Linked DNA regions of Homo sapiens: all the other regions are linked to region 2. The links come from fine-mapping of genetic effects on gene expression. Tissue or cell type: whole blood. Region 2 holds a variant in brackets; each other region holds the start of a gene. Each region is shown on its reference strand, or each on the opposite one.

The links. PIP is the estimated chance that this variant, and not a neighbour inherited with it, causes the effect. A credible set is the group of variants that fine-mapping cannot tell apart.
Region 1: DOK4 starts here. The variant in region 2 is the best candidate, but not a certain one, in a credible set for the expression of DOK4 in whole blood (TOPMed, PIP 0.50).
Region 3: INSC starts here. The variant in region 2 is the best candidate, but not a certain one, in a credible set for the expression of INSC in whole blood (TOPMed, PIP 0.65).

What each region holds. Positions count from the first base shown.
Region 1 is chr16:57,484,796-57,487,457 of GRCh38, reverse strand. It overlaps DOK4 (docking protein 4), which reads left to right and starts at 965. Exons shown (of 9, transcript NM_018110.5): 1 at 965-1,153. RefSeq lists a silencer at 785-1,084 and an enhancer at 916-1,712.
Region 2 is chr7:50,259,362-50,262,164 of GRCh38, reverse strand. No RefSeq gene overlaps it. Among named protein-coding and RNA genes, the nearest start is that of IKZF1, 44 kb to the left of the region's middle. The variant G/C (reference allele first, on the strand shown) is at 1,304.
Region 3 is chr11:15,113,318-15,116,120 of GRCh38, reverse strand. It overlaps INSC (INSC spindle orientation adaptor protein), which reads right to left and starts at 1,198. Exons shown (of 13, transcript NM_001042536.3): 1 at 1,118-1,198. RefSeq lists enhancers at 1,491-2,024, 2,676-2,725.

The sequences.
Region 1 (2,662 bases), not on the chromosome of region 2:
TTTGTATATATGGTCTAAAGCAGTGGTTCTCACACATTCGTGTGCATCAGAATCACCTGGCCTGTTAAAACACACATTTCTGCTGGAAACCCCCAAAAATTCTGATTTCATAGGTCTGAGTAGGGCAGGGAATTTGCATTTCTAACAAGTTTCAAGGTGATGGGAAGCTTCTGGTCCAGGGACTACACTTTGAGAAGCCCTGGTGTAAAAAGGTACAGACGTGAAAACCAGAGGGGGGACAGCTCCTCCCCAGAGGAGGCACTGGGCAACTTCTCTTGTCCCTGCCTGGCACAGCTGAGGCCTGTGACTGGGGATTCCGACAGATCAGTGAGTCAACCACTGCACAGGCCCGAAGGGCAGAGGTGAGGGGGTTGGGGGCTGGGTGGGGGCAGCAATGAAGGGGAATGAAGTTTGAGCTTGAGGGCAAAGTCTCAGGGGGACCTAGAATGGGAGAACTGGATGTTTTGAGGGTGGAGAGGAGACCAGGGAAGACAGAGGTGCTGGTGCGGCTACTTGAGGAGGGGTAGCAGAGGAGGTCACTGTGGGGCTGGGAGAGCTGGGCTGTGAGGGCCCAGAGAGTCATGATGGGGTTAGGGGAGCAATGGGTGTGTATGTGATTCCTGAAGAAGTGAAGGAATTGAGATATGGGGGCTGGGAGCTGATGTGGCGTATGGGTGTGTATGTGATTCCTGAAGAAGTGAAGGGGTTGAGATGTGGGGGCTGGGAGCTGATGTGGAGTTCAGCTTTCAGGGGCTGAGAGGCCATGTGGGCTTTGGGGCCCAGGGAGGGGCGGTGGGAATGAGCTGGGGGTACCGGGGGCGACCTGAAGCGGGTGCGGGGGTGCCAGGGCGCCAGGGCAGAATCGCGCGTCCCGCGGCTCGGAGGAATACGGCGGGGGCCGGCCGCCAGGGCGGGGCAGGGGGCGGGGCGCAGCGGCGAGACCTGGCGGAGGGGGGAGCGGAGCGGAGTCCCAGCCGGAGCCCCAGCCGGAGCCCGATCCCTAGCCCTGCGGCCGCGCCTCCCTCGCCGTCCCCGCCTGGAGCCCGGCGCCGCCGCCGCCCTGCCGCCCCCGCCAGCCGCGCCGTGACGCGGGCATGAGCCTGCTCCGCGGCGCCGCTGAGCAGGCGCTCCTGGCCCGGGCCTCGGCGCCCAGGTAAATTGGGGGGCGTGAGGCAGGGAGGGGGACATAGGCCGCCCAGAGCCTGCAAGAGTCTCGGCGACTCCCACCCCTGAGGACCCTCAGTCACTTCCTGAACCTGAGGACGCTCCGTCCCATGGGACCTTCCTACTCTCGGGTGGGGAGCTTAGAGACCCGCCCCCCAAAAGCCAGTGCCTGGGCCCTGAAACTCCCTGCGCTCTCTCCACCCGCAGCTTTCCTCTCCGGGGGAGCCCAGGTCGCGAGCTGACCTCACCCGCACCCACACAAACCTCATCCGAGCAACCCAGGCCCTGCGCTCCCGGGCCTGCCCCCCCGGAAGGGGCATAACCCAGCCCCTGGCAGCTCCCAACCTTCTCTCTGCCTTCCTGCTCCTCCCCGGGGCCTCCTGTTCGCTCACCTCCTCCAAATTCCAAGAGATGATTTTCTGTACCCCAGCTGGCCCCCACTGCCGACCCCCTCCTGCCTATGGGGTTTCTCCCCACAGCCCAAACTCATGGCCAGCTGCCTCCTGTCCTTGAACCTTTCTCCATTGGCCCCCAAGGTCCTGTCCACCTTCTCCCCCAGGGCCCGCAAGGCCCTAGATCCAGTTACATGCTTTCTATTACTGAAAAGGGGCATGAGCCGAGGCTGGGCACCTGGGTGATGTGGCAGAGCAGGGGCTCTGTGCAGCCTGCCTGCCCCAAGCCATGGGGACACGTCAGTTGCTGGGGCGCTTCCGCTTGGATGGAGGGTGTGGGTTGGAGGGGTCTGATGGCCAGGGCAGCGAGGGGCCTGGCAGTATCTCTAGGAGACTCCACTTGGGCAGTGTGAGGTGGGCTTGCTTAGGGCAGGTTCTTTCCTGGACCCTTTCAGAGGGATGTGGCGCTGGTACAGGCTCTTCCTGCCCCCACCCCCAACTCTGATCCCAGGAGCTGTGCCTCCTCTCCCCAGTTGCTTGCCTTGCTGTGCTGGTACTGGTTACTCCCAGCACTTCCCTCCTGGGCAGGGCAGCAGGGCTGGGCATGACCTCACCCCACAACCCTGGCCAAGGTGGGGCCGCCCAACTAGGCCTGGCCTCGATGTCAGCAGCATGCTCTTCCCTGAGGCAGCTCTGAACCAAACTGCGGGTCTTGGGCACAGCTGGTTCTCCAGTAACAACAGCCTGCTGGCCATGCCAGTCAGCGCTGAGACCCAGGAGCTGGGAGCCCACTGTGGCTCACGCACCTCTGGAAGCTGAGCCAGGTCCAGCCAGATGGAGGCTGGTGGTGGTGGAAGAAAGGATGGGGAGGAGGACAAGTCCTGGAGAGAATTACGTGTTCAGCCCCCAAATATTGAGCATCTCCTTCCCACCGGGCACCATTCTGGGAGCTGGGATAGAGCTGTTAACTAGACAGACGAGGCCGAGCCACCAGGGAGCTGACATTCCAGATGTCTCTCTGTGGCCAGAAACAAATGGACAGATGTAAGAACAAGAAAATCCCATGGTGATGTGCGATGAAGACAGCCGCATCTGATGTTGTGAGA
Region 2 (2,803 bases):
TGACATTTTCTACCCAAATAGGCACTGAAAGTTCAAAGTTTCCAGATAAGCATTCAGCTTCTTGATACTTATCTAACCTTAAACTTCAAGCATCCTGATGTTCATTAGATTCAAAACCAGAGAAAGTCAGATATCTCTTTTGTAAAAGAGTGTTTTCTACCATCATTGCTGCTATAATTTAGGAAGAGGGTGCTGAGTATTCTAACTTTATAGTTAGTCATGCCAGTAACAAATATTGTCCATAATATGCTACTAGGAGGGAAAAAGTCAAAATCCCATCAGTAAAAGATTGACTTATAAACAGAACAGGGTGTCCTAGTTATCTGAATACCCACAGATAGAGATCTCTCCCACACTGAGGCCTGCCCATAAACAAGGGCTGCATCCAGGCACGCATCACATGTAGAAAAAGCTGACACATGCTTATAAAGCACAGTGATTGATTCACAAAGATGTGTCCATTCTGGAAAAAAAATAAGGCCCAACTCAATAAAGAATGAAAAAAAAGTTCCACCATCTATTTGTATCATATTTTGTACTTTTCAAAACACTCTCACTCTCATGATCTTACTTGATCTTCCTAATTATCAGGGATATAGGTAGAGTCATTATCATTGCCATGACACAGCCAGAGAATTTTGAGGCTCATACACATTAAGTGGCAGTGATGAGGATCTGCAAGAAGTAGCCCAGGGCTGTTGCTGGGATCCAGGCTCATGCTTTCCTAACTGTGATCTCTATGTGTTAATACTGAAAGAGAAGCATGGAGACAGCAGAGGATGAGCTCATGACCACCATTTATTTTCGGCTTCCTGGAAAAAGAATTGAGCTTTAAGCTACCACCCTCTTCTATTCCTGCTTTGGCCATTTAATACTTATGGGATCTTGAGGCGGAATACTGTAAAATGGAAGGTTTGTGATGATTAAATAAAATAAATATATTAGGTACTTACTATGAATGAAATTTTACTATGTTAGATTTCATCTTTAGTTCCTTCCCTCTAAAGATTTACCAGAACTAAGTAATCCTATTTCTATAAACTGTACCAGCAAGTCAGTCCAGCTACTTCTCTTTCATCCTAGAGATTCCATGGGATGCCACCACTTCTCCTAAACTCTGTTATCTCATGTATTAACTGGCTGAAGATACAGAACTAAAAAGATACAGTCCCTTCCTCAGTGGGGATCAATGCTTATGGTTTCTTTCTTCCTTTTTCTTCTTTCTTTCTTTCTTTCTTTTTTTTTTGACTCTATCAATCAGGTAGGGATGAGCAAACTATGGCAATGGACCACATTTGGGCTA[G/C]TCCCTGTTAGTATTCAATTGTGAACTAAGAATGGTTTTTACATTTTTTTAAATGGTTGCAAAAACCTCAAAACAAGCATACTATTTCCTGACATGTAGAAATTATAGAAAACTCAAATTTCGGTGCTCATAAATAAAACTTCTTGGACATACAGTCATATGCATTCATACTCAATGTCTATGTCTTTTTCATGCTATAATTGCGGAGTTGAGTAGCTGCTACAGAGATTTTATGGCTCAGAAAGCCTGAACTATTTACTATTTGGTCCTGTGAAGAAATGTTTCTTGATTTCTATTCTATGTACCATTCTACATTGTACTGCAAGAGTGTCCAATGCCCTGTATAGTGTTAGCACAAAATATATGCCCTTTCTTCTGCTCTCTTTAGCTTTAGTTTGCTTTTTCTAGTATCTGAAAGCCGAAAGCTGAAAGCCTCAGTTGTTGCTCTAAGACATTGTTATTTTCTGGTATGCATGTTAAAGATGTAAATTTCCCTGTAAGCTCTATTTGAACTGTGTCCTATAAATTTTGGTATGTTGTGTTTTCATTTTAATTCCATTTAAAATATTTTACAATTTCCCACATGATTTTTTTCCTTTGACCCACTGGTTAATTTGGTAACGTGCTGCTTAATTTCCAATTACTTGGGGTTTTTCTAGATTTCTTCCTATTGTGGATCTCTCATTTAATTCCATTATGGTAGAGAATATATTTTATATGACTTCAGTCTCTTAGATTTATTGAGAATATTTTGTGACCCAGCATATGATTTATTTGATGAAGACTGTTCCACATTCAGTTGAGAAGAATATGTCAGTGGGTGGAGTGTTCTACAAAAGTCAGTTAAGTTGAGCTGGGGGAGATGTTGTTCAAGTCTTCTATATTCCTGCTATTTTCTGACTAGTTGTTCTGTCAGTTATTGAAGAGGGTATTACAGTTTTCAACTATTATTGATGAAATACATATTTCTCCTTTCAATTCAGTTTTTGCTTCATGTATTTTTTGGCTGTTTTTAAGTGCATATGCACTTAAATTATATATCTTCCTGATGTGTTGACCCTTTTGTCATTGTGAAGTGTCTGTCATTGTCTCCTATAATTTTTTTTGTCTTAAAGTCTATTTTACCTGCTATTTGTACAGCCATTCCTGTTCTCTCATGGTTATTGTTTGCATGGTATATCTTTCTTGTCTTTTTAATTTCAACAATTGTATCTTTAAATCTAAGCTGTATTTCCTGGTGATAGCGTATTGAATTGTCCCTCAGTTTTTGTGGGGAATTGCTTCAGGACCAACTGTGACTACTAAAATCTGTAGATGTTCAGTCCCTGATATAAAGTGGTGAAGTATTTGTCTATAACTTATGCACATCCTCCTGTATAATTTAAATTATCTTTAGATTACTTGCAATATCTAACACCTTGTAAATGCTATTGTTATATTGTATTGTTTAGGAAATAATAAAAAGAAAAAGGTCTATACACATTCACTACAGACACAGTT
Region 3 (2,803 bases), not on the chromosome of region 2:
AAAGGGACAAGATGCTCTCTGGCTGAGCTCCATGGACAGCCTCAGTTTCAGATTCAATGGAACCCCTCAAAGGCACCACATCACCATCTGCCCTGACCCCCACAGCCAAAGTCCCTGACTTAAAATATTCCCCACTGAGGCCAGTTTCTTGGACCCATTGTCAGAGGTATAATATATAGATTAAAAGGGGCAAAAGTGGGAGGAGGCTAGCGGCTGAGGGTGGGGCCACACCAGGGATACATTTGCGCATATGCATTGAACAAAGTGGGTGCATGTTGCATACATGTCGTTGTCCACAGGTATACATGTTGAAAGTGTGAATGGTTGCATGGCTATCCTGAGAAGAGTGTGTGCAAGACTGGTGCACATGGACAGGAATGTGTGTATGCTGAGCATGTAAGCGTGGGTGCACTGCGAGTGTTTGTGGGTGGCCATGGCCATATGGTCCACTCATCCCCTGGCCTCCTGTCTCTTCTCCTGGTTTAAGAGTGGGGTCTCCCAAGCTGTCTCCCTGACCCTGGTCTAGCCAGATGGGGTTAGTCAGAGCCACATTCACTCCAGTGTTGTGTGAGGGCTCTGAGCTTCTGTCCTTCTCCAAGCCCTGAGAAACCAAAGCTGAATGACCCACAGAGAAGACACCCCAGCTGGGACAAGTCAGGTCACCTTAGAAAGCCTGAGTTCAGATAACACTCCCTAGCCCCAATTTCTGCCTTCCTGGGTTCACACTGGCACATCCACTCATCCACATGTGGACTGGCTCAGCCCACCTGGGGGCCTTCCTGCCACACACACAGGCATTTCCACAGGTACAGACACAGTGCACCCAGGGCAGCAGGTGCCACACAGGCAAATACCTGTGGCCCACTCCAGGCCACCACACACTCTGACACACTCGTTCACCCACACTCGCACCCTGGGGCACATGCTAGAAAATTCCACATGTGGACATCCCATCCAGACACACTCCCTCACACTGGCGCAAGCTCCCCTTCACAAGCACTCCCACTGACACACTTACACCTACTATCCAATTAGTGACAAACCTGCACTGTTCCCAACTAGGCTAGCAGAGGCATCACCAGCCCCCTGAATCCAGCTAGGGGAGCTGTCTACTTACTTAGCGTGCGAGACAGGCTGGTAGTGCGAGCGGCCAGTGGTGGCGGGGCGCAGCTGGAGCTCCAGAGGCCGCGCGCAAAGTGGCCGCTCTGCCGGCCCAGCCCGAGAGGCCGCCCCTGGCCCCCGCCCCACCCCCCGCCCCGTTCTCCCCCGCCCGCCCTCTCCGAGGCGGTCGCAGCCTCCCAAGGACCTTCCACAGCAGCGCGCTCCCTGCCAAGCCTTGGTCCCGCGTCAGCCACGGCTGCCTGCTGTCTCCGCGGGACTACGAGGCTATTTCGGTGCCCCTGGGGGGGGAAACATGGCCCTCCCTCCCATCTGCAGGAGCGCTGGAATGGGGACGCGGTCAGGCCTAATTAGAGACCGGGCTCCCCCGGGCCAGGCGGCAGGCACCAGGGTGATCGCCCGGGAGCCGCGAAGCCGTCCAGGCGGGGTCGCCCACAAGGTGCCCCGCATGCCAACATCTGGAGAGGGGAAGGGAATGTGCCGCGATCGTTTCCCTTGGAGCTGAAACAAAACAAGGAGGGATTTGGGTGCAGTTCACTTGCTAGGAAGGAGGAAGCCACCCAGCTTTGATAGACCCCAAACGCCTAGAATGAGACGGTTTATTCACCGCAGGTGCTTCCCTCTGGAACCTTGCTCACACACACCTAAGTCACCCTCCACATCTTGGACCTGCCAAAAATGACGAGGGGTTGTTGCAGAAACTCCTTCTAACTTCGGCACATAAGATCAGACCCCACCCCCCACCCCCCACCCCCGTCCTGGACTCTGTCAAATAGCTAAATCTAGAGGAACTTGATTCCTACCCAAAAGCTCGGGAATGTGGCATTTTTGACCTGGAAGAAAGCTTCCAGATCATTTCATACAACTCCCCCTCCCCCGCCTCCGCCATCTTGCTATGAGGCTCCCAGAGCCCAGAGAATCTTGACCTATTCTTGGAGGTCCTCAAGCAAAGGCAGCCCCTGGTCTCCCTTGAGCCCTGTTCCAAAGCTTGAACTCTCTTACTGACAGAAAGATCTCCTTGACATCTAACCTAAATCTCTCACATGCAAACTATGTCAATTTGCTCACAATATGTATTCAGGGAGAAGGAGCTCAACTCAGTCCCCATGACAAAACGACCACGCCGAGGTCCCACTGCAGCCTTCTCTTCCTTAATGCTAATAATCTCTATTTCTTTTTTCAGGCTCTGGCTGAAGCTAACTGCTGCTCCCTGGACTCGAACACACACAGTAGCTCTCTGATATTAACTCTCCTCCTCAGCTCTCTGGGGGCCCAGGGCTCAGAAGGTGGCCAAATCATTCCTCTCAGACAAGCCAGCTTCAACTCTACCCTCCAGTCATCCAGAACAGCCTGATTCTACTCCCCAAGTTCCCTGAGAGGGGCCTCAGTTCCTGTTTCAACAAGTGCTGTCTAGGGCTGGGGACAGGGCTTGGTGCCGCCTGGCTGGGCATTACCACTGAAACCACAGTCTTACAGACTGTTTGCAGAATCTTCTCTCTGAGTCTGTTTCCGGTAGGGCAGGTGGTATGATAAGAATAGTCTCAGCCGGGAGTGGTGGCTCACGCCTGTAATCCCAGCTCTTTGGGAGGCCAAGGTGGATAGATCACAAAGTCCGGAGATTAAGTCCATCCTGGCCGACATGGTGAAACCCCATCTCTACTAATAATACAAAAATTAACTGGGC